Linked DNA regions of Homo sapiens: all the other regions are linked to region 2. The links come from fine-mapping of genetic effects on gene expression. A gene starts in region 2. Each other region holds a variant in brackets. All regions are shown on one strand. Distances are from middle to middle. Region 1 overlaps INPP4B (inositol polyphosphate-4-phosphatase type II B). Region 2 holds the start of INPP4B (inositol polyphosphate-4-phosphatase type II B). Region 3 overlaps INPP4B (inositol polyphosphate-4-phosphatase type II B). Region 4 overlaps INPP4B (inositol polyphosphate-4-phosphatase type II B). Region 5 overlaps INPP4B (inositol polyphosphate-4-phosphatase type II B).

Region 1 (5,134 bases), 320 kb after region 2:
TATAAGGTGTAAGGAAGGGATCCAGTTTCAGCTTTCTACATATGGCTAGCCAGTTTTCCCAGCACCATTTATTAAATAGGGAATCCTTTCCCCATTGCTTGTTTTTCTCAGGTTTGTCAAAGATCAGATAGTTGTAGATATGCGGCGTTATTTCTGAGGGCTCTGTTCTGTTCCATTGATCTATATCTCTGTTTTGGTACCAATACCATGCTGTTTTGCTTACTATAGCCTTGTAGTATAGTTTGAAGTCAGGTAGTGTGATGCCTCCAGCTTTGTTCTTTTGGCTTAGAATTGACTTGGCAATGTGGGCTCTTTTTTGGTTCCATATGAACTTTAAAGTAGTTTTTTCCAATTCTGTGAAGAAAGGCATTGGTAGCTTGATGGGGATGGCATTGAATCTGTAAATTACCTTGGGCAGTATGGCCATTTTCACGATATTGATTCTTCCTACCCATGAGCATGGAATGTTCTTCCATTTCTTTCTATCCTCTTTTATTTCAGTGAGCAGTGGTTTGTAGTTCTCCTTGAAGAGGTCCTTCACATCCCTTGTAAGTTGGATTCCTAGGTATTTTATTCTCTTTGAAGCAATTGTGAATGGGAGTTCACTCATGATTTGGCTCTCTGTTTGTCTGTTATTGGTGTATAAGAATGCTTGTGATTTTTGCACATTGATTTTGTATCCTGAGACTTTGCTGAAGTTGCTTATCAGCTTAAGGAGATTTTGGGCTGAGACAATGGGGTTTTCTAGATATACAATCATGTCGTCTGCAAACAGGGAGAATTTGACTTCCTCTTTTCCAAATTGAATGCCCTTTATTTCCTTCTCCTGCCTGATTGCCCTGGCCAGAACTTCCAACACTATGTTGAATAGGAGTGGTGAGAGAGGGCATCCCTGTCTTGTGCCAGTTTTCAAAGGGAATGCTTCCAGTTTTTGCCCATTCAGTATGATATTGGCTGTGGGTTTGTCATAGATAGCTCTTATTATTTTGAAATACGTCCCGTCAATACCTAATTTATTGAGAGTTTTTAGCATGAAGTGTTGTTGAATTTTGTCAAAGGCCTTTTCTGCATCTATTGAGATAATCATGTGGTTTTTGTCTTTGGCTCTGTTTATATGCTGGATTACATTTATTGATTTGCGTATATTGGACCAGCCTTGCATCCCAGGGCTAATATCCAGAATCTACAATGAACTCAAACAAATTTACAAGAAAAAAACAAACAACCCCATCAAAAAGTGGGCAAAGGACATGAACAGACACTTCTCAAAAGAAGACATTTATGCAGCCAAAAAACACATGAAAAAATGCTCATCATCACTGGCCATCAGAGAAATGCAAATCAAAACCACAGTGAGATACCATCTCACACCAGTTAGAATGGCAATCATTAAAAAATCAGGAAACAACAGGTGCTGGAGAGGATGTGGAGAAATAGGAACACTTTTACACTGTTGGTGGGACTGTAAACTAGTTCAACCATTGTGGAAGTCGGTGCGGCGATTCCTCAGGATCTAGAACTAGAAATACCATTTGACCCAGCCATCCCATTACTGGGTATATACCCAAAGGACTATAAATCATGCTGCTATAAAGACACATGCACACATATGTTTATTGCGGCACTATTCACAATAGCAAAGACTTGGAACCATCCCAAATGTCCAACAATGATAGACTGGATTAAGAAAATGTGGCACATATACACCATGGAATACTATGCAGCCATAAAAAATGATGAGTTCATGTCCTTTGTAGGGACATGGATGAAATTGGAAATCATCATTCTCAGTAAACTATCGCAAGAACAAAAAACCAAACACCGCATATTCTCACTCATAGGTGGGAATTGAACAATGAGATCACATGGACTCAGGAAGGGGAACATCACACTCTGGGGACTGTTGTGGGGTGGGGGGAGGGGGGAGGGATAGCATTGGGAGATATACCTAATGCTAGATGACGAGTTAGTGGGTGCAGCGCACCAGCGTGGCACATGTATACATATGTAACTAACCTGCACAATGTGCACATGTACCCTAAAACTTAAAGTATAATAATAAAAGAAAAAATAATACATACTTTTATTGAAAAAAGAAAAGCTAAAAGCAGGAGGAGAGCAATGCAGGAGGGACATTGTGGGAAGAGTGGAGACTGATTAAGGGTTACAACCCTGGCCTTGCTTTGCCAAGTAGGTGGATTGCAAGGAGAATTTGAAAGCTGAGAAATTATTCTGAGATTGGGAAGCTTTTCAGCAAAATAAAACCTATAACTGAAAGCAAGTAAAGGCATCAGAAAAGAAGAATTTCAGCCCTTTGCATGACAAGTGTACATCTTCAGTTCTGATAATCCTCTTACATCATGTTCACCTTGTGTCTCAGCATCACCTCCCACTCATCATACTCCAAACATGCTCCATCACATTCTCAAACCTGAGTATGCATTCGAATTATCTGGGGGCTAGTTAAAACATGAATTGTTGGTCCACACGTCAGAGTCAGAGTTTCTGATTTAGTAGGTCTGGGGTTTGTATTTGCGTTTGTAATAAATTTTCAGTAATTGTTGTTGCTGTTCATGCTGGAACAACTTTGAGAACCTCTGTCCTAAACTACTACCTTCAATTTTTGTTATATCTTGTCCTCCAAACCACAGCTTGGAATCAACTCTAATTCTCATCTTTCTAGTCAAGCGATGCTCCAGTTTACCTTTGCTTTCCTTGGAATTCCATCTTTTCTTTTCAAACTCACAGCTACTAATCAGACATGACTGCT[A/G]CTAGCAACAAGAAATCACATGATTTCAATACCACTATTTTGAACACCCTTTACATGCAAGTTACTGTGGTAGCCACTTTAAAATATAGTAGCTTGTTAAATAATACTATTAGATAAGTTGTATTAGCTTCATTTATAGGTGAAGAAATTCATTTGTAGTAAGATTAATTCACTTGTAATGGGTATTACAGAAAGGATATAAATGAAGGTCAGTCTGACATGAAAACCCATGTTCTTATTGTGTCCAACCTATATTCAGATGCCACCTGAGGCCACCACTTCTTTCAGGCAGCCCTTCTTGTATGATTAAGCAGGTGATATAGTAAACCGTCTCCCTTCTCTCATCTACTAATGATATCCCCTTTATTATACAGACTTGGCATATGATGATATAGCATTGGAACTCAGTACCAAAGGGATAGATTAACCAAGAAATATCACTGGAAAGGCCAGGAGTGGTGTTGATTACCTGTAGTCCCAGCTGCCCAGGAGGTTGATGCATGAGGATGTCTTGAGGCCAATTCAAAGCTGCAGTGCTCTGTGATCATGCCTGTGAATAACCACTTCACTCCAGCCTGGGCAACATAGGGAAATCTCATGTCTCGGGGTGGGGGGCGGGGGCGGGAAAGAAGGAAAGAAATGTTCCTGGGACAAGTAAATGTCTACATGACACAATAGTAGATGGAATAAAATTCTCAATTTGAAAAATAAAACTGAAAATTTTAGAAGAAAACATAAGATACTGAAATACAAACTTTAAAAATTGATAAACATAAAAACCTTTAAAAATGCAACAAAAGAAATGGTAAATAAAATCAAAGGTAAATCATAAAGAAAAAAAGTTGGCAATATTGTCATTGTTTTACATATATGCATATTGAATCCAGTAGAGGAGAAATAACTTGCCCAAAGCACACAGCCAGTCAAGTGACAGGGCAAGATTCTAATCCACTGTTGTGATACAGATATTAGGATGAAGAATGTTTTAGTTAATTCACCACTCTGTGCTTTTAAATTATTTCTCAATACCAAACAAATTAACTTGTATTTTGTGGACTCTATTTATACAAATACAATTTCTCAGTTAAAGCAGATGAACTAATTCTATATGCATTATCATAGATATACCACATAAATGTAAATATTGAATAAGACTAGTAAGACTAGTTAATTCACAATGTGTACAAAATGATATTTTTTAAGTTTAAAACACAGAAATCTTATGTATTATTTGTAAATACAAATATATGAATCGAAAGTATAAAATCATGGACAAGAAGAATACATACCAATTTCAGACTACTGGTAATCTCTGAAGAAGGAAGAAGGAAACAAAAGGGGTCAGGATGGCCTTAATTGTATAAGTGATGTTTCATTATTATGTAGCTTTAAAAATCTGAACCAAATATGGCAAAGTGCTAATGCCTGTTAGATTAATGTGGCCAGTACTTGTTGTAGTTTTTTCTCTTCACTTTTCAGGATTTTTGAAATTTTTTATGGCTAAAAATAGAAAATTTAACAAAGGTTTTTCATGGGTTGAAATAAATTTTGGATATTCTTGGTTAAAACACAAGAATTTTCTTTGCTGCAAAACTTTTCCATCATTAATATGCTAATGGAAATATGAATTGCCAAGAGGATAATGTGCTATGAAATATTTCCCAATCTTATTTTACCATGGAATCCTTTTATTTTTGTCTTAATGAAACATCTATTAACAACTCATGGATATTTTGGGAAATGCTGTTATACATCACAGCACTTAATTTTCCCTAATTGTTTCATGTAATTTAACTTAATTTTCCTGATTATATTTTTCATCTCTTTGATACCGAGACCAAAGTCTTATTCCCTTTTAGGTAGACATATAATGGATATAAAAGTAATACTTTGATGGGTTTGTTTGATTTTTCTGAGAAATTATTGTGTAGGTCATCATACTTAATGTAGGTTTGGGGTCAAGGGAGAGAAGTAATAAAAATTGCCCTTGCACACAGTTTTATATGGCACTAAAAAGCAAATCTAAGGAACACAAAGATCATAAGGTCAATGGTATTTATTTTCAAACAAATGGAATATATTTATGCCAAAACTTTGCCAGACCTGTTTCTGTAGACATCTGTCCTTCATTTATTCATTCATTTATTTCAACAAATATTTTCAAATAATCTGAGGAGAAATTATACTTTAATAATATATGGGTAGTAGATAAAATTCAGTGCATCAGATTTCTCAGAATTATATCATCAATAATTTCTCAGAGTAAAATAACTTAACCCTTTTAAAACTATATTAAGTGTAAGTCCAATTTACCATTGTATTTAAATAATTGATTCATTTAAATATTTTTGAATGCTATACACA
Region 2 (5,134 bases):
TATTTTGTCCTTCATTGGCAAATGGAGTTATGTTTTGGGGGTACAAGTCAGCAAAAGTTCAAGGTTTGTAAAAGTGAATGCTGAATGAGTTTATTAAACCACGGAAGCATCTGAATCCTCCAGGCTTATTCAAGGAAAAAGCCACCAAATAACTAAAAAAGGTAAATATCAGGATGATTGATGGATTTTTAAAAATGCCTTGTGGTACATGCATCTGATGGCATCCTGATTCATATTCTCTCTTTTCTGAGAATTCAAACTTCCTACGTGATGTACACAAGTAAGTCACATATTCTTCAGCCGCCCTGTAAAAGGACTTTGTCAGCATGGTCCATGTCTGGACTTTAATTATAATAGGGTCCTCTAAGCATCTCACTTTAAACGTCCATTTCCATAGAATCAGTAACTGCATTTATTTTACAACTCAGTCTTTTAGGAGGTATGGTTTGGTATTTCTGGCATTGCTGCTGTAGTCTTCATAAACACACACACGCACAGACACACACACACACACACTCTTCCACTTAGAGGACAGATATGTTAACCATATTTCCAATTTAGTAGCAAAGCTCTGACATCCTAATGTCCTGATATTATTTCAATCTCTCTCTATTGTGAGAAAAATCAGAAACTGCCCAGTGAGAAAGTTGTATCATCTTTCCAGCAGATCTCTATGAACACGGCTTACCCATTGCTTGGAGATGGGTGTGTTCAGTGCTGCCCCATGGAGGAGAAATCTAACTGTGTGAAGGCTTCTCAAAGCTGATCCACATCTTGACAGGGATTATTTGTTCCTCACTCTCCTATCTCTCTGCATTCAGCTCACTTGGGGTAGAGGCTGAGCATAGGAGAAAAAGCTTGAAGAGAAGCAAAAGGAAGGGCTTCGGGGGCGCCAAGCAGTTTCTGGCCTATAGTGTTTATTATTTGATTCTATAAACATTTATTGAAACTACAGAATATTAGGTATTGTCCCAAGCTCTGGGAGCAGAGTGATGAAAAAAATAAATGAAACGAACAAACAACTCCCCCCACCAAACAAAACAAAACAAAACAAAACAAAACAAACCCAAAGTCCCTGTCCTCATTGGCAAGGCTTATAATGTGGTGGTCAAAGGTTTGAGGAGTGAAAGGATGCCTAGATGCGGGCAGTGACAGCAGGGGTGACAGCTGGGGGTACATACAGCTTCCTGGTTTGTGAAACTGTTAAGCCCCGACTTAACCCAAATTGATTTCACTGTCCTGACTTTGAGATTCCAGTCTTTTTGCATGGCAAATGTAACACTTGTGTACAAGCATTCGTACACTGCTTTACTTAAAATGTGATTTTAAAGCGCCCTCAGGGAGAAGGGCTGGGGTGTCTTGATGGGCTGGCTCTGGGCACCTTTACCTTTGAACGGCTCCATCAAAACCTTTCCGAGAGAGCCGCCAGGTGGCACCTGTAAAGCGCAGATGGGGAGAGTCATTTGCCCCACACCCTACACAGCCCGGAATAACCAGGGTGCGTGCTTTCCCCTGTGGGCTTGTTAGGGGCTAGGAAGTGGGGGAGTTTTAGTCTCCGTCCAGACTGCTTGCTTACATACCCCGTTTTCCTGATACCCCAACACATTCAGGGCGGATTTGTCCCCACGCACCCGGGATATCAAAGGCATGTCATACGCTAGTTGGGAGCATCTCGGCCTCAGTCACCCGCCGCGACGTGGGAACTGGCGGTGGGTGGCCGAGGGCTGCTCTAAGCTGGTCTCCTCAGCCCGACCTCTGCCCGGGGCAAGGGGGAGGAGGGGCAAGAGACAGGGGTCCCAGCGCGGCTGCAGACTGGGGTCCAGCAGGCGTGAATGGATGCCTAGACGCAGGCAGTGACAGCAGGGATCCCAAGCCCCTTCCAAAAACCCTCGGTCTAGGGACTGCGCTGCCATAGGCCGGGGTCTGGGGCGCTTTCTTCCTCCCGCGGGTTCTTTCTCTGTGGTTTCTCCTGCCCCCGCAGCAGCGTGGCGGCCTCGGGTCCCCCCTCGTCGCGGTAGCGGTGATCCCACAGCCCAGTCTGGGTGGGCGACCCAGCGGGCAGAGGGGCCGCAGAAAGGGGTCGGGGTACGGGGTGTGAGCACACGGAGCCAGCGTGGTAATTTCGGGGTGGGCAGCCGGGCCACCATCTCCGCTCTATCAGTAGCGGGAAGCGAGCAGCGCCAGTTGCGCGACTGTCGCTGCCACGGCCGCCTCTACTCGGTCGCTGGTGACATTGGGAGGAGACCGCTTGGAGAGAGCAGAGGAGGAGGAAGAGGAGCGGGGAGGGTGGGGGTTGGGGTGGAAGAAAGTAGCAATTGTGCCAGGGGGCGTGTGAGCAGCCGGAGAGCCAGCCGCGCTGGTGACAACTTCTCTGGGGCGCGCGCGGGGCTGGTAGGCGAGGAGCGAGCAGGGAGCGCGGCCGAAGCCAGAGGCTGGGGGAGCTGCTGGAGCCTCGCGAAGCCGCGGCCGGCGCCCTGCGCCGTCGCCGCCGCCTGCTAGTTTCCTCCGGGTTCTCAGCCCCGGGTACTGAGGCTTCGGTCTATAAATAGCAGGTTACAGCTCCTCCTGGGCGCGCACACGCTCACACGCTCGCAAGCGAACGCAGGAAAGTCAGGCTAAAAGTGTCTGCTGCTGCTGCCGCCCCCCACTCCGCCTCCGGGAGAGGTAATTACCCGCCTGGGATCCTAGGGCTCGGTGGGGGAATTTTGCAGGGTGGGGTGGTTGATGGTGGGTAATCCGGGAGGCGAGGGAGCGTGTCTGAGAGCGTGGCGGCACGTCTTGGAGGGGGGAGCCTGTCTGTTTTGCATCAAGTTTCTCCGTCTTGCAGCCTCCATCACCCCTCCAGCTCTTTAGCTTAAAGGGTGGGGTGGGCTGTCTCTCCTCGGCTGCTGGGGTACCCCTGTCACCGCGCCTACCCTCTCGCCGAGCGCCCCTCTGCCCGGCGCGCGCGCGTTTTCGCATTCTCACTCACACACGCACACTCTCCGGGCCCCCGTGGAACTCTGAGCTCTGGCCTCGCTGACCTTCCAAGGCTGCGCCCACCTGCGCTGTCCCTGAGAGACGCTGAGGTTGGCCCGGGCACTCGCTCTCACTTCCAATCCTGATGATCGCAAGCTGCCGCCGCCGCCGCCGCCGCCGCCGCCGGCCTGGGAAGAAGTCCTTAAGGAATAGAGGCAGTGGTGGGGAGTGAGGGTGACTGATGTTGGTGGTCCCGGTTGCCTTGTTTTTTGTTTTAAAAATAAAGAGCCCATCTCCTTGACCACCTTCATCCCACCCTCAACAACTCATTCTGGCAGAGAAGCCTGGCATGTCTTCTCTCGGCCATCAGGCAGCATCTCTTGTCCTTCCCCAAAGAGGTCTCGCTGAGAGGTTAGGGCCTTGGCGCAAGAGTGCCTGGGTTTGGACGGGGGAGGTCATTGTTTCGGGTCTGAGAACTATGCTGCAGGCTCCTCAAGCTCTCTGGCGCTCAGGCAGGGCCCAGGGCCGGGGAATGTCTGGGAGCCTGGTTCCTGAATGTAGTTTCAGGCTGGTAGCTGATATGAAGATGAGGATGCTAGAACCACATATACCTGTTTTTCCCCCTCCCCACGCTTCTGAATTCTCCCTTCCTTGGGGGCAGTAGTTTCTGCTCCTGGGGAGTCGGTGGAGAGGGGCCCAGCAGTTTCTCTTTGGGGACAAGAGGGTGAGGAAGCACATATTGATTAGGTTGTTGCTGCTGCTGCACAAAACTTACTGGAAAAACCCGGTAGGGTTTTCTATTACTCTTGTTTTAAGGATGTAAATTTACTCCTTTTCCTCTTTTATCTTCTCCCTAACCAGAACTAGTTTTCCTTTCTCTTTCTGGAATGTTATTTGAGGTCATTATATTTTATGACTCCAGATGTTACATTTTGCATATCTCCTTCCTGTCAGTATGACAGACAGAACTTGTTTATAAAGGTGTGGCTCTGTAAGTAAAAGCCTAAAGACAGAGGATAAATTCATCTTCTCTCTCTCAAGATGAGCTCCAGATAGTTCTTTTATAGGTGTACAACTACATTTCAAAGACCTTGCTTGAAAAAGGACTTTTCTTAATGAGTTCTGGACCAGAAATGGTAGTAATCTGACTCAATGATAAAGCAGCGCATAAGGTGCAAGGAATCATCAACAGGGCAGCTGGCTGATGATGTGTAAGAAGTTGAGTAAAGCAAGGACTGGGCAAGTGGGCATTGTCAGTTCACATACTATGCACAGAAATGCATCCTCTCCTTTACGCATTGATGCACATACATGCATTATGTGTTCCTTTGTGATATAATCCTGTAAAGCATTGATAGGAAATGATCAATAGTTTTGTGAAAGGTACATGGGCATTGAAGGTTGAACCTCGTGAATTTGTAGTAATGTAAAATGCTATTGCAAAATGGATTGCTTTTTCAGTGTATTTCCTTAAAATGTGATGTAGAAGATTGTCCTTGAAAGGTTATGAAATGTGTGTGTGAAGATAGGCTAAATGCTCAGTGACATTAAGAAACATGTTTGCAGATTGAAATACTGCTCTTATTCTAGGAGAGTATTCTCTTTGATTAAGCAAATCAATATTTATTTGTGATAAAATAATGATCACTATGATGTGCATATTTATAACTCAAATTTGCTTTTGACTCTTTATAAAGTGTAAGAACAACCAGATAGACCATTTAGTCTTGTCCCTCTATTTAAAGTAGCATGCAGTCAAAGGTATAGGCAGAAAATACTTTTAAAATGTTGTGTTTGAGCTTCAGTTTGGGGCTGCAAATTGAATGACTTCATGTCTCATAAGATTTTTGTCAAAATACTAAATCGCTCTACTATCATAGACCATCAGTTAAACTTGATTATAAAATAATGCTATTATATTTTAGTTGTGTGAAATGGAAAATCATTAAGCTTAGGGAAAAGCCAGATATTTGTTCTAAATTGTGCAAATTGAAAGTAATTAATTCCTTTCTGAAACCTTGGAGCATCTTCTAGTATAAGTACTATAAATCCCCAGATGGGTAACAAAGTTAACTTTCACTACCTTGAGGGAGAACCCAAGATGACAATTCTCTGAAAGACAGAAAAAAAACCTGCTAACTGATCTTAAAACTCATAGCAACCAAATGAGTGGCAG
Region 3 (5,134 bases), 190 kb after region 2:
CAGCTAAAGACTGGGTTCTTGTCCATCCCAAGGCCACAAAAATTTAGCCTCACAGACAGTTTAAAGGGTGAGCAAAATAGGGTTTTATTGGGTGAAAAGGGAGAAAAACGGGTGGGGGAAACACCTGCCTGGCGTTTGAATCCCAGGTCCACACAGGAAGACGACGAGGCAGGCTCCTCCCTGCTTCAAATCGTGTGAACTTCCCAAGGCTCCACCCCAGTGCGCAGGCTGCTTGGAGTTTCTCCAGGAATCCCCTCCCACTGGCTGTCTCATTCCCCCCTCTAAAGAAGTACATCTAACTGTGGTTAGATTAAGGATAAGGATGAAGACTGATCTTAACCGCTTCCTGCTGACAGGGGGCGCTGTTTTGGGGAAATGGCAGAACTCCCTCAGAGGCTGATCTAAGGGTTCCCGGCAGAAGGGGCCATCTTCAGAGGCTCTGGTTGCATGACTGTTTGGAGTTTGATGGCCTGAAGGTAAGAACAGACAAACCCAATTATTAGAAAACATGTATCAAAGTGAAACAAGGGGAGGGGTAAGGACAGCTCAAAAATCCTGAGGCCCTTTACCAGTTTGCATGGAGAGAGGGAGGCCAAAAGCCTGACTAGTTAAAATCTTTACCCTTTTGGTGGCATGTTGGGCTTCTGGGTTTCCTTCCCCTGGGCCCAGTCCTAAGGCAACCAGTTTCAGCTTTGGGAAATTAACTCTTTCCTGTTTGGAAAATGCATCTGAGGGGAGTGTCCCATAGTACAGAGACACAATTAAATATCAGTGAAGAGAGAACCAAGGAGGAGAAAGGAATAAAAAGAAGATGCCTTTTAAAGGAGTTCCAGGGGTTCAGGATACATTTTAAGGGGTACAGACTGAAGATGAATGGCTACCCATCTAGAAAGAGGGGAGTAGCCATCTCTAGTTCCCTTCTCTTCCTAGCAGATACCCAGGGGTAAGTGAGGGAGAGAGAGAACAGCATCCTCTTTCCCTCTTCCATCCTTGCATCCCCAAGTCCTGGTGACCTTGGCAGGTCTCGCCATGCAAAGCAGCTTGTACCCATGAAGTGGGGGATGGGGAGGGGGTGGCTAGAGAAAAGGAATTATCTGTTCTCACCTATGTCTCTTTCCCACCTAATGTCAGTAGCTTTGGAGTTCCCTAGACCTCATTTATGCTATGGATATTAACGTGGTCTTTATCCATGAAACAGGAAGCTTGGGGTTGGCTTAATTGGCAGAAATCAGCCACACTCACCTGCTCGGTGCCTTTTAACCTCTGTTGTTATCTGCCTCTGGATCCTTAACATCCAGTTTTCCTTCCTAGGGCTTTGAACCAAAGCTTAGAATTGAGTCTGGGACAAAACTGTATCTCACGGGTGGGGGTGGGGTTGCATGGATGCCTTATCATAAGCCGAATGCAAGGTGAAGCTGTGGAATTGAGTCCTCCTCCAACAAGGGAGAGGAAAGGATGTCTTGTGAGACACCCAGATGAGTGTTTGCTATAGTTATGCTTGCTAAGATTTGGGTGCATGGTGCTTGGCTTTGGTTAGCTCCCTTGGTTTTACTTTACCAAAAGGAAACCTCCGAGTGATGGGCATCCTATTTATTCCCATCACCTGGCAGGATTTGAAGGATAATTACTCAGAACTAGAATATTTATCAGGATTTCTACATCACCCATCCCTCATGTTGTTTCTGAGCTGCAGCTAGAGATTGCTGGTTGGTTCATAGGAACAAGCAGGGTTAGTTTCAAATGTAGGCAAAAAATTAAAAACAACTAATGAGTTTAGAATTTAGTGACCAATATATAAGTTTTGAAACATAATTTCTCTCTCTCCAGTCCTCTTTTTTTTTTCTTTTGAGACAGAGTCTCACTCTGTCGCCCAGGTTGGAGTGCAGTGGCGTGATCTTGGCTCACTGCAAGCTCCACCTCCCGGGTTCACGCCATTCTTCTGCCTCAGCATC[C/T]GGGGTAGCTGGGACTACAGGCATCTGCCACCACGCCTGGCTAATTTTTTTTTTTTTGTATTTTTAGTAGAGGCGGGGTTTCACCGTGTTAGCCATGATGGTCTCAATCTCCTGACCTGGTGATCTGCCCGCCTCGGCCTCCCAAAGTGCTGGGATTATAGGTGTGAACCTCCGTGCCCTGCCCAGTCCTCATTTTTGTTAAAAAAAAAATTATAGGACTGAATGGTTTGCAAAATAGAATTTAGTCTTAAACTTGGCCTGATTATTTGCATAAAGTGCAGCAAGAATGATTATTTCTACATACGCCTTTTGGGTTGGCTTTAATGGGATTTTGTTCCACAAGGAGTCTCAGATAAGAACTTTTAAAGCCAAGCCCAACCATGGGTTTGTATCTTCAAACACCTGTGAGTTGGGTGCTTCTGTCCTCTTAAGGTCGATAAACTTGGACCTCCTAGAACTGTTAGAACGTGACATTCTTTACTGACCACAGGTCAGGAACCCTGTACAGGGACTGCATAGATGAGGTATGAGACCAGTTTCCCCACTGGGCTTTTATTGGCTCTGCAAGTCAAGATCGTCTACTTAAAGGGAAGCATACCCTTCTAGTTAAAGCCTTGGTAAAATAACCAATTCTTCCAATTGCATCCTGCTGCAAAAGAAAAATGGATTCTTATTGCACTGATGCAAACAACTGTAATGCCGTAAGTTAAGAATGCTCACAGATAGTTTCAAAATTCTAGAGGAACCAGGCAGAGACAAACAAACATGCTCCATATCTTGATCACAGGATTATACCTTGCTTAATTCTTAAAGGCTGTAAATCATTCAAAATAAGTTTCCTTGACTATGAAAAACAGAACAAGGATCAGCAATATTTAAACCAAAAGTCAAAAAGGTTGCTTTAGTTTTCTGAGTTTAGTCCATTTAGTTAGCCCTTGTTTTACTTGATATTTGTGAACATTTCAGCTCTTCATGAGTCCTGTACATTTTCCTGTATTCCAATGTTACAATATCCAAAGTTATCAGAAGCCTGTATTTAAGAGCACCTATTACAGTTTTATAGCTTATTATAAACCATTTTTTGAAAAGGATTAAAGCAAGACAACAATTGTCTGTGAAGAGCAAAATGTTCAGTGAGTTACAGTTAGAAACACAATTGACAAATTTGGTTATCTTCATGGTTTACAATAACTTAACATAACCTTAATTATGATTGATAGCATATCGTTAGACATCAGGATTTTAGAAATCCCATGCAATTTTGGAACATATGTGAACATTATTTTCTAAGAAGATTGAATAACATTTTGGCAATCCTATGTACCTAAACATGTCAAATGATCCTATTTACCTCTCTTTTTGGACACTTCAGGGGCCTTCCGAAGTAATTGAAAAGCCCGGTGTCAAAAAAGACAATTTTGAAACTTAAATTTGATTTTCAGAATCCGTTAAATATCTTCCAGGTTTAAAACACTTGATATTATGAAATAGAATTCCAGATTACCATGTCATTTATTTTTCCAAAATGATGACTCAGAAATTTTAAAGCAGCAAAAACATTTTATAACCTATTTAGTCAATATGTTTACACAAAGAACCTCTTCTGAAAGATTAATTTCCACAGTTCTTTCACCACTTCTTTGAACCTTCAGCTTTTTCCTAATTTAACTCAAAACAATTCTTTAACCCTAGGCAAAAGTTTACATTTCCAAGCCTTCTTATAACCTTTTACTAAAAAACACATTTTACTGTTCTTACACACCCTGCATGTAAATCTATTTCTAGTAGTTTCAATTAACTCCTAGCAATTTTTAACTTTAAGATAAAACTTGGTAAGTTGCTTTGTGTGCTAAGTGCAGCCAAGGTTTGCATTCTTAGTTAAGGGTGTGATTAGTTCCATATGTCCACACCTTACCAGTTGTGAAGCTGACAAGTCAAATAGATCTCAAAACCCAAAAAGCAGTTTGTAACCTCAAAACACTTAACAAACCTTGCATCTGACCTGAATTTTACCAGTGGTCTTTAGGGCTGTTTATATTTCTTAAAGATTAAAGTCATGTGAACTGAAGGATACCACAGCTTTTATCTTCCCTCTAAAAAATGTTAGATCCAAGCGCTTGTTTTTCTTTAGGCCAAATTAATTAGAGCTCTTTTTACAGATATCACACACAGTACACACACAGAGGACCACCCAGTCACTGGGTGCAGCCCTTTAAGAGACAGGGCTAGGAAAACATGCAGATGTCTAATCTGAGAGGGCTCATCCCCTCAGACAGGATTGTGAAACAAAGCCTTGCCAAGTGGCTACTGGCCATGCCCCCAGGATGTAAAGCAAGATGGAGGCTTGCAACACAAACCATACAGACGTGTAAAGCACACCAGATTGGCCACAGCCAAAGACTAGTCCCACAAATCCTTTTCCACAACCAAAACTTTACAGAGAGTACAAACAGTGATAGTTGGGGGGCCTAACCCAGTAAAAACATCTTCTAAAAGGAAAAAAAAATCTTTAAGGGCTAACTTGTTGATGAGGTAGAGAAGGAGAAAGAACAAAAAAGCAGTTTAAAAATTCCTGGGGAAGAGCCTCTTATTCTTGTGCAAATGGTTCCTCCACCAGGGAGACAAGTTTAAGCTTAATTGCTGTCCAATAGAGTTACACCCCTTGGCCAAGGAAGGGGAAGACTGCTGCAACGGGAAGTGGTTAGGACCAGCCAGCCAGCTGTGCGGGATCCTTAGGCCATGCATCCTAGCCCCAGCAAAGCAGGGAGCTGCTGCTCAGCAGTGAGTCCCGAAAAAGGAAGGAAAAGGCCATGAAAAGGCCCAGGATCCACAGGGGGTAGGGGTATGGTTTTCCCCACTGTCAGAAGTCCCAGGATGAAAAGGCTTAGAAGCAACAGTGAGAGGTTTTGTGTCCCCATTTCATTCACCACTTCTCGAGCCCCATGTTGGGCGCCAAAAATGATGCAGGACTTTCCTTAGTTCTGCTACAGACGGGATTCTTATCTGTTTCCCAGCTATGAAAATTTAGGCTCACAGACAGTTTAAAGGGTGAGCAAAACAGGGTTCTATTGGGTGAGAATGGAGAAAAGTGGGCAAACTGGCCAGAGTCTCTCCACTAGAGCACTTCCCACCTGGTGATCAAATCCCAGGTCCACACAGGAAGCAGAGGGGCCAGGCTCCTC
Region 4 (5,000 bases), 520 kb after region 2:
ATCCTGTATCTTTCAGTGATTCTCTGATAAAGGAAGGTGATGTCTACAGATATTGTTGCCATTCAGTATTCTTTCACCTGCTTGTAATAGATCTCTATAATAGTCGGAAAGGGAAGTGGAATAAAATGTGGGTAATGGCAGGGATACTCAGAATTATATGACTCTGGAGCCACATTTGCAGTCACTATTAACCTAAAGAACTACATGAGTCCTGTATGACTGGTAGAATTTAGTATAATGGCGCATTCATATAGAGAAATTAGAAGTTTTAAAGCGCCACCAATTAAACATAAAGAGACCCATGTGACTAGGAGCTGTGGTGTGAACATCACTGCTTTAGAGAAATGGAAAACATCTAAGGTTAGAGCATCCAAACTAAAAGAGTGCTTTTATTTGTCTTAACTAGTATTTCTTTTTGGCATGGAAGCCTATAGAATGAACTTGTATACATAATTTGGTAGAGTGTGCTTTGACATTTGAAAGATGATCGCATTTAGTGAGTAAAACCCAAGATAGCATATCCCACTCAACAATTATTGTTTATCCAAGTTGGTTAATTGGGATTGTGTTTAGGCTGCAGAGTAAGCTCTAGTCTTACCAAAGGAACCACCTGTCATTATGCATTTGTAACCAGTTTGTCAAAAACGTAACTCAACAGACAGACCAATATTTAAATGGCATTTTTTCCTCTCCAGTTACATATAACCATAGTCTGTTGAATATCATTTTTCATCCCTTGACCGCATGTTTGGAAGATTTCTTAGCTTACCAATAACTTTTCTGGATATTAAGGAGTTCGGTTTGGGTAGGATGTGGTAGGTGGGACAAGCACTGCTCCTTCTGGCAACACCTAGAAAAGAAGCTAGGCTGATTGCAAAAATCACATGTTTGAAAGCACCGTTAAGCTATCAGAGCAAAAATAACTAGAGAGACCAAATTTCCAGAGCAAGGAGAACCTTTCAACGCTGAGCTATCGGGAGCCATGATTTTTGTCTAGGGGTATTTGCTGACTCTGAGAGTGGACTGAGGAGTAGGCCTTTGCCTAGACAGAGAGCTGCTGCTTGGAGAAAGAGAAATCAAAAAAGCTTTCAGCAGTTGTATTGGATGAAGTGAGAAATGGAGACTTCAGGGGCCTCAAGTAAGTGGCCATTTTTTTCTCAGAAGAGACTTGGTGAACTCTGACACTTTGCAGAAGGCTGGAGAACCAGGTCAAAGGCTTCCAAAAAGCAAAGTGAAAGTCCCCATAGTTTCACAGTGCTTGGGAAACTAGAGAGAGAAACTGACAACAGGCAAGAGATGCCCTAGGGGGAGTGCTGAGTTGACACTGAGAAACTAAAAAGCCGTTTTTCACCTGGAGGTATTCACAGAGTCTCCCTGTGGCTAGAAGTCTGAATATCAAGGTTTTGCCAAACAGAAGGTGGCAACTGGCAGGCATAACACTCAGCAGAGATTTGGGTTTTCATGCATAGTTGGAATGACAGTTTTGGAGTCCAAAAGAGATTCAAACTCATGGCTGGTCTCCCTCTAAAGACTTTTGTCAGATTCTGAGGCTGTGTCAGGTATAATGTTAAAGAAGTATAGTGGAATGTCTTAACAATATCCACTTTTTCAGGGCTGAGAAGCAAAGGCCAGTCAGGCTGTTGGTTGAAAACACAGAGGGCCATACCAGATAACACAGGTAGACTTAGAATCTTAGTTGGCTAGGGCTACGCATAAGTAATACCATAGACTGGGTAGCTTAAGCAACAAAAATTTATTTTCTCACAGGTCTGGAGTCTGCAAATCCAAGATCAAGGTGCTGGCAAGGTTGGCTTCTCCAAAGCCTCTCTCCTTAGCTTGTAGACAGTGGCCCTCTTGCTGCCTCTTTGCATGGTCTTTCCTCTGGGCAGAGCTTTTCTGGTATCTCCTCTTTTTCTTACAATGACACCAGTTACATTGGATTAGCACCCTAACCCATGGGTCTCATTTTAAATTAATCACTTCTGTAAAGGCCCTATCTCAAATAATTACGTTCTGAGCTACTTGGGAGTAAGGGCTTCAATATATGAATATTGGAGAAACACATTTCAGCCAATGACACTGAATTGTACCAACAATTCCAGCCCAGCTCTGTCCCAGATCAATCTCTGACTTGATTGAAGAGTGACTCCCTACCCCTCACCTTACCTGCCATTTGCCTCACATAAAAAGGGGGCACCTGTCTGCTGGAAGGTATCATCTGGAGCTTTTACAGTGGCTTGACATTAAAAAAAAAAAAAAGATCTGCTGGGCGCTGTGGCTCACGCCTGTAATCCCTGCACTTTGGGAGGCCAAGGCGGGCAGATCACAAGGTCAGGAGATTGAGACCATCCTGGCTAA[C/A]ATGGTGAAACCCCGTCTCTACTAAAAATACAAAAAATTAGCCAGGCGTGGTGGCGGGTGCCTGTAGTCCCAGCTACTGGGGAGGCTGAGGCAAGAGAATGGTGTGAAACCGAGAGGCAGAGCTTGCAGTGAGCCAAGATCGTGCCACTGCACTCCAGCCTGGGCGACAGAGTGAGACTCCGTCTCAAAAAAAAAAAAAAAAAAAAGTCATCATAACCGTAATAATGAACCTCATTTCTATTTCAGGCATGTTTAGGTGCAATGAAGACCTGTTCTCATTATGACCCATTTCACTCATGAGCATTCTTCCAAACCAGAGCTTCTCAAACATTAATGTACACATAAATGAATTGGGAATCTTACCAAAATGAACACTATGATGCACGTGTCTGTGGTAAGCCTGAGATACTGCATTTCTAACAGACTTCTAGAGAATGGTCTGGAGACCATCCTTCTGACCAGCTGTTGACCAGCAGGGGATGAGTATGCACACTAAAATTTAAGGAACGTTTCCTAAAAATGTCTGAGGGCCTTCTAGCTCTGATGATCTGTTAACTTTTTTTGTGTGTCCTTTTCAAAGGGAACCATATTTGATGGCTTGAACATGGCACAATGTGTTTTAAGATTCTTCATAGGACTTAGAGCTAGTTTGTGAGGCTCATTCTTACCAAAAAGTAATCTCATTTATTTTATAGCAATAGTTCTTTACTCTAACTTTGGCTTCACATTAGAATCAAGTGGAGTATTCACCTTAAAAATACTGATGCTTGGGTCCTTCCCTTGGACATTCTGATTTAATTATTCTGGGGTGTGACCTGTGAATTGGCATTTAAAACAAACACAAAACCAAAAACATGTTACAGGCGATTCTACTGTGTTGTCAAGGTTAATAACAACTGTTTTAGGGTAGCACATTTTAAAAACTAATTTTACTAAAATAGTAGTGGGCTTGCTTTGGCCCACTCACCTTAGTTACAAAGCATGTTTCTGGTAAAAATCAGCATATGGTAATAATAGCCCACTTTCAAAAGAATTAATATTTACCCATTGTTAATATTTGAAGGAATATTTCTCAGAATTTTTTCAATCCGTTGAAGCTGGGTAGTTGTCACTTCTTATAGACTAGAAATGTGATTCCATTTTGCCAGAGTCCTCTCCAATTCCTATTGTCTCAAACACCCAGGCCACTCCTTTCATTAATTTTACCTACCTGGAGCCTGTGGGCATGTGAGTTTGTAACACTACCGTTATGATACTGATTTGTGAGATAGTAAGCTAGAAATTCCAAATGTTGAAGAAGAAATGTTCAATGTACTTCCCAGGAATATTTCAGATATAATTTTCATATTGCCTAGTTTTTTTTTTAGATTAACTGAGAGATTCCTTGCATCTCTAAGATTCTGTGACCTAAATCATTTAGGTTTGTACATGCATCATTTTCTCCATGCAAGATTAAAATTAAACAACTAGAAAACCGTTATCTAAGACTAGCTGATAGATTTTAGAAAGCTGAAGATTCTTAGCAATTATTATTAGATGTTTGACTCTTACCATGCCATTGTTATTGCGTATCAACGAAATATACCTTGTCTTCTTAATCTCTTACTCTCTGAGATTGCCAGTGCTTATAATAGTGGCTGAATCATAATATGTGCTTGATACATGTTTGCTGGCCTTAAAATAGTAAATGAAGATTTAATGTTAGCTATGTTGCTTTATTTTCTCTTAACCATATACTAAATAAATCCAAAATTTCATTAGAACAAATCTGGAGGCATTACATTACCCAACTTCAAACTATACTATAAGGCTATGACCACCAAAACAGCATGGTACTGGTATAAAAATAGGCACATAGAACAATGGAACAGAATAGAGAACCCAGAAATAAAGTCAAATACTTACAGCCAACTGATCTTCAACAAAGCAGGCAAAAGTAGGGAAACATAAAGTAGGGAAAGGACACTCTATTCAACAAATGGTGCCGGAACAATTGGCAAGTCACATGTAAAAGAATGAAACTGAATCCTTATCTCTGACCTCATACACAAATCGACTCAAGATGGATCAAAGACTTAAATCTAAGACCTGAAATCATAAAAATTCTAGAAGATAACATTAGAAAAACCCTTCTCGACATTGACTTAGGCAAATAATTCATGACCAAGAACCCAAAAGCAAATGCAACAAAAACAGAGAGAAATAGATGGGATTTAATTAAACTAAAGAGCTTCTTCACAGCAAAAGAAAAGAGGAAATCTTTGCCAACTATGCATCTGACAAAGGGATAATATTTAGAATTTACAAGGAACTCAAGTCAGCAAGAAAAAAGCAAATAATTCCATCAAAAAGTGGGCTAAGGACATAAACAAACAATTCTCAAAAGAAATATAAATGGCCAACAAGCCTATGAAAAAGTGCTCAACATCACTAATTATCAGGAAAATGCAAATCAAAACTACAATGTGATGTCACCTTACTCCTTCAGGAATGGCCACAATTAAAAAATCAAAAAAATAATAGATGTTGGTGTGGATGTGGTAAAAAGAGAACACTTTTACACTGCTGGTGGGAATGTAAACTAGTACAACCACTATGGAAAACAGTGCAGAGATTCCTTAACATACTAAAAGTAGATCTAC
Region 5 (5,134 bases), 150 kb after region 2:
GGTCTGCCAGGAAAAGTCTTTGTAACTGCCTGGGGTTAGGCCTGAAAGATCACAGTAGGTTTTTAGCCAAAACCCAGATTCCTCAGTAGACCCTGATGCAGCTTAAAGATTGTTGGACACAGAATGGGAGTTAGAAAAATTAGGAAATGAGATGCTTGTGATTGAGATCTGCAGAAAGTCCAGATATTGGTAGTGACAAGATCTAGGGTCTGGTAATGAAAATGAATAGTCCTAATAAAGTGGAGACAATCATTTAAGACAAAAGGCAAGATCATATCTGTGGATATTGAAATCTCAAATAGTTATGACAAGAATAACACTGGAAGGAGAAATGGTGACCTACCCTTTCAGTGCTAAGATTTAAAAATTAATCTCGTATGTCTTTTTTTCTATGAGAAATAATTTATGAAAACTCTATTGATTTCAAATCAATAAAAATGATGGATTTGTTTCAGAAAAAAATTGTTTATAACTTGTAAGATCTGTAACTTAATTGTTTTCTCTTACTGGTAAGGGCATGTTCATGCTAACAGTAGCCCTATAGCTGTGGTTACTTATCTTAATTACAGCCAAGATTTATTTCAGCTTGAGTGTTTTATAAGCAGATTAGAATTTTAAAATTTTCACAGCCAGTCTTCTTGCATTATACTCTTTTTAAATTCAAGCATGTTTCATATTATAAGAAGCTAACCTTAAATTATAGCCCTTGTTTTGTTAAATATTCAGTATTCTAGGAATTTGAAATTCTCAAATGTAGTCTTTAAAACTCTGAGTTTATCTGATAAGGATTTTATTATTATTGTTATTTACATATGAATACAGGAACAAAATGTGATTTAAGTAAGTCATGGCCTAGAAAGGGATTTGTAATGTCTTGGCCCTATTTAAGAACTTTTACCCATGCCTCATGTTCTAGGATTTCTACTTGATCCAGCTTGGAAATCTGAATAACTCATGATATTGGGAAATTTCCATGGCTGCATTTTCTTCAGTTCCTTGCTTGTAGCTCACCTTTGTCTCCTGTTTTTCTTGTAGGTTTCCAGTATATGCTTTGGCCATATAAAGTAATAAAGCAAATAAGTTCCTATCGTTTAATCATATAGAAAAGCCCAGCAAGAATCCATTGTCCAAATCTTGTTTGATTAAGATTGATTGACAGTTTTATGTAATTGGATGACATTTTTAAGAGAAAATCAACAGAACATTATCACATGGTTAAAGCCTACTGCCAGAAACAATAAACTTGGCTTACCTATTTCGTTAGAGTATTATTTTGATTTATTCACTCATGTATATAATTCACTTTCACAGTTGATCCCAGACTCTGTTTTTATGAATGGCAACTCAGAGAATTTAGGTAGCTTTTCTGGGAGCAAGGTTGATGGCATTGGTGTGGGTTGGGGAAAGCCTAACAGTATTAAAAGGGAGAATGATATAGAGGTTGTTCATCCCATGTTCAGTTACCGATGTGTTTTCACCAAAACCATATAATTTAAATGTCTCCTTTTCCTGGAAAATATGAAGCATTGTACAACAGGTAATTTTAATAACAATGTAACTTAGGCTGCTTATGATTGACATCAACATCACATGTATATAATATGATTGTAAGAATTTTTAAAAATGCATCATTGGGATAATAAACTGTAACTGACATCCTTTTAAACTAAAAGCAGGTGAAAGCTTGCCAGTGTTCCACTCTCTCTGACTTACCATTCTAAGAATAAACACATACAGTGGAGTGTGCGGGGCTGCACACTGTGGTTTTATCTACTTCCTTGCTAGAGGAAAGCACTGTTATAAAAACAAGTAAAACATGCAAAGGGAAGTAATTTAATAAGTAATTTTACAATAAAAGAATGGAACTATAAACCTGCTTTTCTTGGACAGCCTTGGTGTTATCCAATTTGCCCTCTTACTGAGCCTCTCTACTGGCTGGCTGTAAAGGACATGGTGAATTAGGATCAGAAGTCGATGGCTGTGTAGTGCCTGGTTTTGAAATGTTTGGAGAACAACATAAGTAGTAGCTGATGGCAAGGCAGAGGGACGCAGGGTTGAGTGGGCACTGCAGATGCCAGGATGACCCAGTTTAAGTGGGTGTAAGCAGTGAAGTAAGCAACAAAGTTGGGCAAGCACTGAAGGTGTAGTTTGTGTAGGAGACAGATGTCAGGGCTGGGGTGGGGAAAGGGAGTATCTGTACCACAGAATTACAGCCTGGGTCAGTTAGTGCCTTGCACTGATGTTTGTGTATATTTTGTCCCCTCAGCTAGATTTTATTACTCTTTGGGGGTGGTATCCTTGTTTATAATTGTTCCCTTGAGCTGCTGGGCACAGTTATGGAACAAGGTGGGTTGTTGCATGAGGATCTCTTGGAAAGTTCTCCTGGGGCTTTCTGGCCCCTTGAGGATGGTATAAATGCTAGTAGGACCAGGCACACTCTCTGTCTTATCAGACACATGGAAAAGGGCACAGAGGAAATGATCTGTTTTAGAATCAGAGTGTGCCTTAATCCATCGAATATGCTGGTGTCATTATTTGACTTCCTGGACTGTAAACACTGCCCTTCTAGGCTCCTGGGACCTTTCTAACCTTTCCTCGTCTGATAACTTTGTCAATACTCAACATTTTCTTGCTCAATCCAGGGGCACCTGTCTAATTCTCCTAGTCCCAGCTGGCTCTCCTTGAACTTGATCTGTCATCTGATCCACAGTGTCTAGGTTTTGGATTATCCTGGCCCGCCTTTCCCTTGAGATCCCACATCAAGATAAGAAACACTGCCTTGAGCCTATAGGGGTTGAGGGGAATTTGTAGCCCTCTGGATATCCATCTTAAAATATGCCAAATAAGTATATTTTGGGGTAAAATATTTTTATTTCCTTCAAGCATTATGCCTGACAACTAAGATTTGATTGTAGTAACTTAGTGCTCTGTTGGATAGAGCACTGTCATTGTCTTAATGAGCATTATATAACTGATTTAAATTCTATTGCACAGTTTATTAAATCGTATCTGTTGGGTAGGTTCCTGCCTTTGAGGCATGCTGCTAACAACATGATGGAACATCTTATTTTTCTTTCAACTAGTTATTTTCATCATAAATTTATGCATAGTATTTTAAAAATAAACTGATAATTTTCAGATAATTATATTAGGGAAGTGACAGCTGCATTACATTCTATCCTTTGCTTGAAAAGCACAGTAAGAACTAAGACATTTAGATGTTTTAC[A/T]TAGGAAATAATATTTTTGGCATTATTAAAACTCACTTCTATGTATTAATTTAAAAATTTTTATTTTTAGGGAAACAAAATTGCTATTCAATTTGGCAGAAGGTTTGTTTTGGGATTTCTGGCTAACAGAATCTTTGCTTTAACTTTGGCAAGGCTGTTTGAGAATTAGCTTCATATTAGGGACCCTTCAGTTCCTGGGTCATTGTTGAAACTCAGTTTTAGAACTTTATTATCTTTATGCTATTCTGAAATAGGGTCAGTGATCTTGATGTCTCCATAAGGGAACTTATTTTGTCAGGTAATGTTTTGTAGAATTTATACATAATTTTATAATTTTACTACATGGGAATAAGTGTTAATACTAAAAAAAAAGTGAATGATTATGAAGGTGTTGTAGGCACATTAACTTGTGTTGCTATTTGTGCAAATATCCTTGACTTTATAGGTGCAGAATAATACCCCTACCCCCACCACAAGACCCTATTTTATTACTGGATCAATAGTGACAGGTAGGGTTTTTAAACCAGAAAGTGGTTTTTCTTATGTTTTTGCTCCCAGTAGAGAAAATATTTTTTCTGAGGGACTTTTTAGTTGATATCTCTCCCTATACATGCAGTAAAAGCAAATATATTTTTCAAAAATGTTAAGGGAAAGTGTAGGGGCTGTAGGCTCTTCTCAGCGTGAACCCTCTAAGGGTTCACTGAAAAATTAGTGCAATTTTAATTATGTATCAGATGCGGAGCTCACCACAAAGGACGAAGCTGCAGATAATGTCTGACCCTTCCCAGCATAGTTTACCCTGCCTATTAGTTTAGAGCCTAGAATCAAATGCCTCCAAAACAGACAAGTTAAACAATTCTAAAAAATATTACAGAAGTGGTTTATAACCTTCAAACAAGTAGCAAAGACAGTATCTGACCTGCCTGACCAGTTTTGACCAAATGTCTAATTTGGAAGACATTTTTACTTTATCAATAATTTTAAAATTAGCTTTATTTATTAAAGATTATTAAAGACATGTGAACTAAAAGGCATTTGAGTTAAAGGGTTTTTTTTTTCTTTTTTTCTTTTTTGTTTTTTTTTTTTGAGACGAGTCTCGTTCTGTCACCCAGGCTAAAGTGCAGTGGTACAATCTCGGCTCACTGCAACCACTGTTTCCTGGGTTCAAGCTATTCTCTTGCCTCAGCCTCCTGAGTAGCTGGGATTACAGACGTGTACCACCATGCCTGACTAATTTTTGTATTTTTAGTACAGACGGGGTTTCACCATGTTGGCCAGGCTGGTCTGGAACTCCCGACCTCAAGCGATCTGCCTGCGTCGGCCTCCCAAAGTGCTGGGATTACAGGTGTGAGCCACCATGCCCAGTCAGCTTTCTTTTTTAAAAAATTTTTAATAAAATGCTTGATTTAAGCACTTACTTTTTCTTTAAACCAATAAATTAGAGCCCTTTTATTTATTTTAGTAGTAAGACATCACATATTACCAGTGTAATTAAGTAGACATATAGACACATAGAGAGAAGCAGATCTTATAAATTTGTGATATTTTTAATTTGCCAGTTTTCAAGGCTTTTTCTTCCTACTTTAGACTGTCAATTTCTTGATTATCTGTTTCTTTGCTCTCAGTTATTGTTAGCTAGGCAACCTTAAATTTGCATTTCTAAAGGAACAGCTAAGATAAAACAACATATATCATTTGAATTTTGATATTTTGAAAGCATAGCGTGAAGACATTAGGCCTGAATATTGTACCATCACTTGTTCAAACCAAGGGAAAAAAATCATGTAAGTAAATTTTAGTTAAGAAGGTGAGGAAAAGCACCTCAAATAAAGGTATAGCTTATAAATTTAAAATAATGGTTAAGAGTTTAATGTATGCAAGCAGACACCCTTACAAATGGAGAGTTC

What was found. PIP is the estimated chance that this variant, and not a neighbour inherited with it, causes the effect.
Region 1: its variant is the best candidate, but not a certain one, in a credible set for the expression of INPP4B in nasal epithelium (TOPMed, PIP 0.77).
Region 3: its variant is the best candidate, but not a certain one, in a credible set for the expression of INPP4B in blood mononuclear cells (TOPMed, PIP 0.78).
Region 4: its variant is the best candidate, but not a certain one, in a credible set for the expression of INPP4B in rectum (CEDAR, PIP 0.51).
Region 5: its variant is the best candidate, but not a certain one, in a credible set for the expression of INPP4B in whole blood (INTERVAL, PIP 0.87).

What each region holds. Positions count from the first base shown.
Region 1 is chr4:142,520,593-142,525,726 of GRCh38, reverse strand. All of the region lies in intron 2 of INPP4B (inositol polyphosphate-4-phosphatase type II B), which reads left to right. Among named protein-coding and RNA genes, the nearest start is that of INPP4B, 320 kb to the left of the region's middle. The variant A/G (reference allele first, on the strand shown) is at 2,771.
Region 2 is chr4:142,843,739-142,848,872 of GRCh38, reverse strand. INPP4B (inositol polyphosphate-4-phosphatase type II B) reads left to right here and starts at 2,572. Exons shown (of 26, transcript NM_001101669.3): 1 at 2,572-2,664. All of the region lies in intron 3 of USP38-DT (USP38 divergent transcript), which reads left to right. RefSeq lists an enhancer at 1,229-1,815.
Region 3 is chr4:142,656,119-142,661,252 of GRCh38, reverse strand. All of the region lies in intron 2 of INPP4B (inositol polyphosphate-4-phosphatase type II B), which reads left to right. All of the region lies in intron 2 of LOC101927613 (a long non-coding RNA gene), which reads right to left. Among named protein-coding and RNA genes, the nearest start is that of INPP4B, 190 kb to the left of the region's middle. The variant C/T (reference allele first, on the strand shown) is at 1,953.
Region 4 is chr4:142,321,008-142,326,007 of GRCh38, reverse strand. The region is part of intron 7 of INPP4B (inositol polyphosphate-4-phosphatase type II B); the gene reads left to right. Among named protein-coding and RNA genes, the nearest start is that of INPP4B, 520 kb to the left of the region's middle. The variant C/A (reference allele first, on the strand shown) is at 2,359.
Region 5 is chr4:142,693,551-142,698,684 of GRCh38, reverse strand. All of the region lies in intron 2 of INPP4B (inositol polyphosphate-4-phosphatase type II B), which reads left to right. Among named protein-coding and RNA genes, the nearest start is that of INPP4B, 150 kb to the left of the region's middle. The variant A/T (reference allele first, on the strand shown) is at 3,228.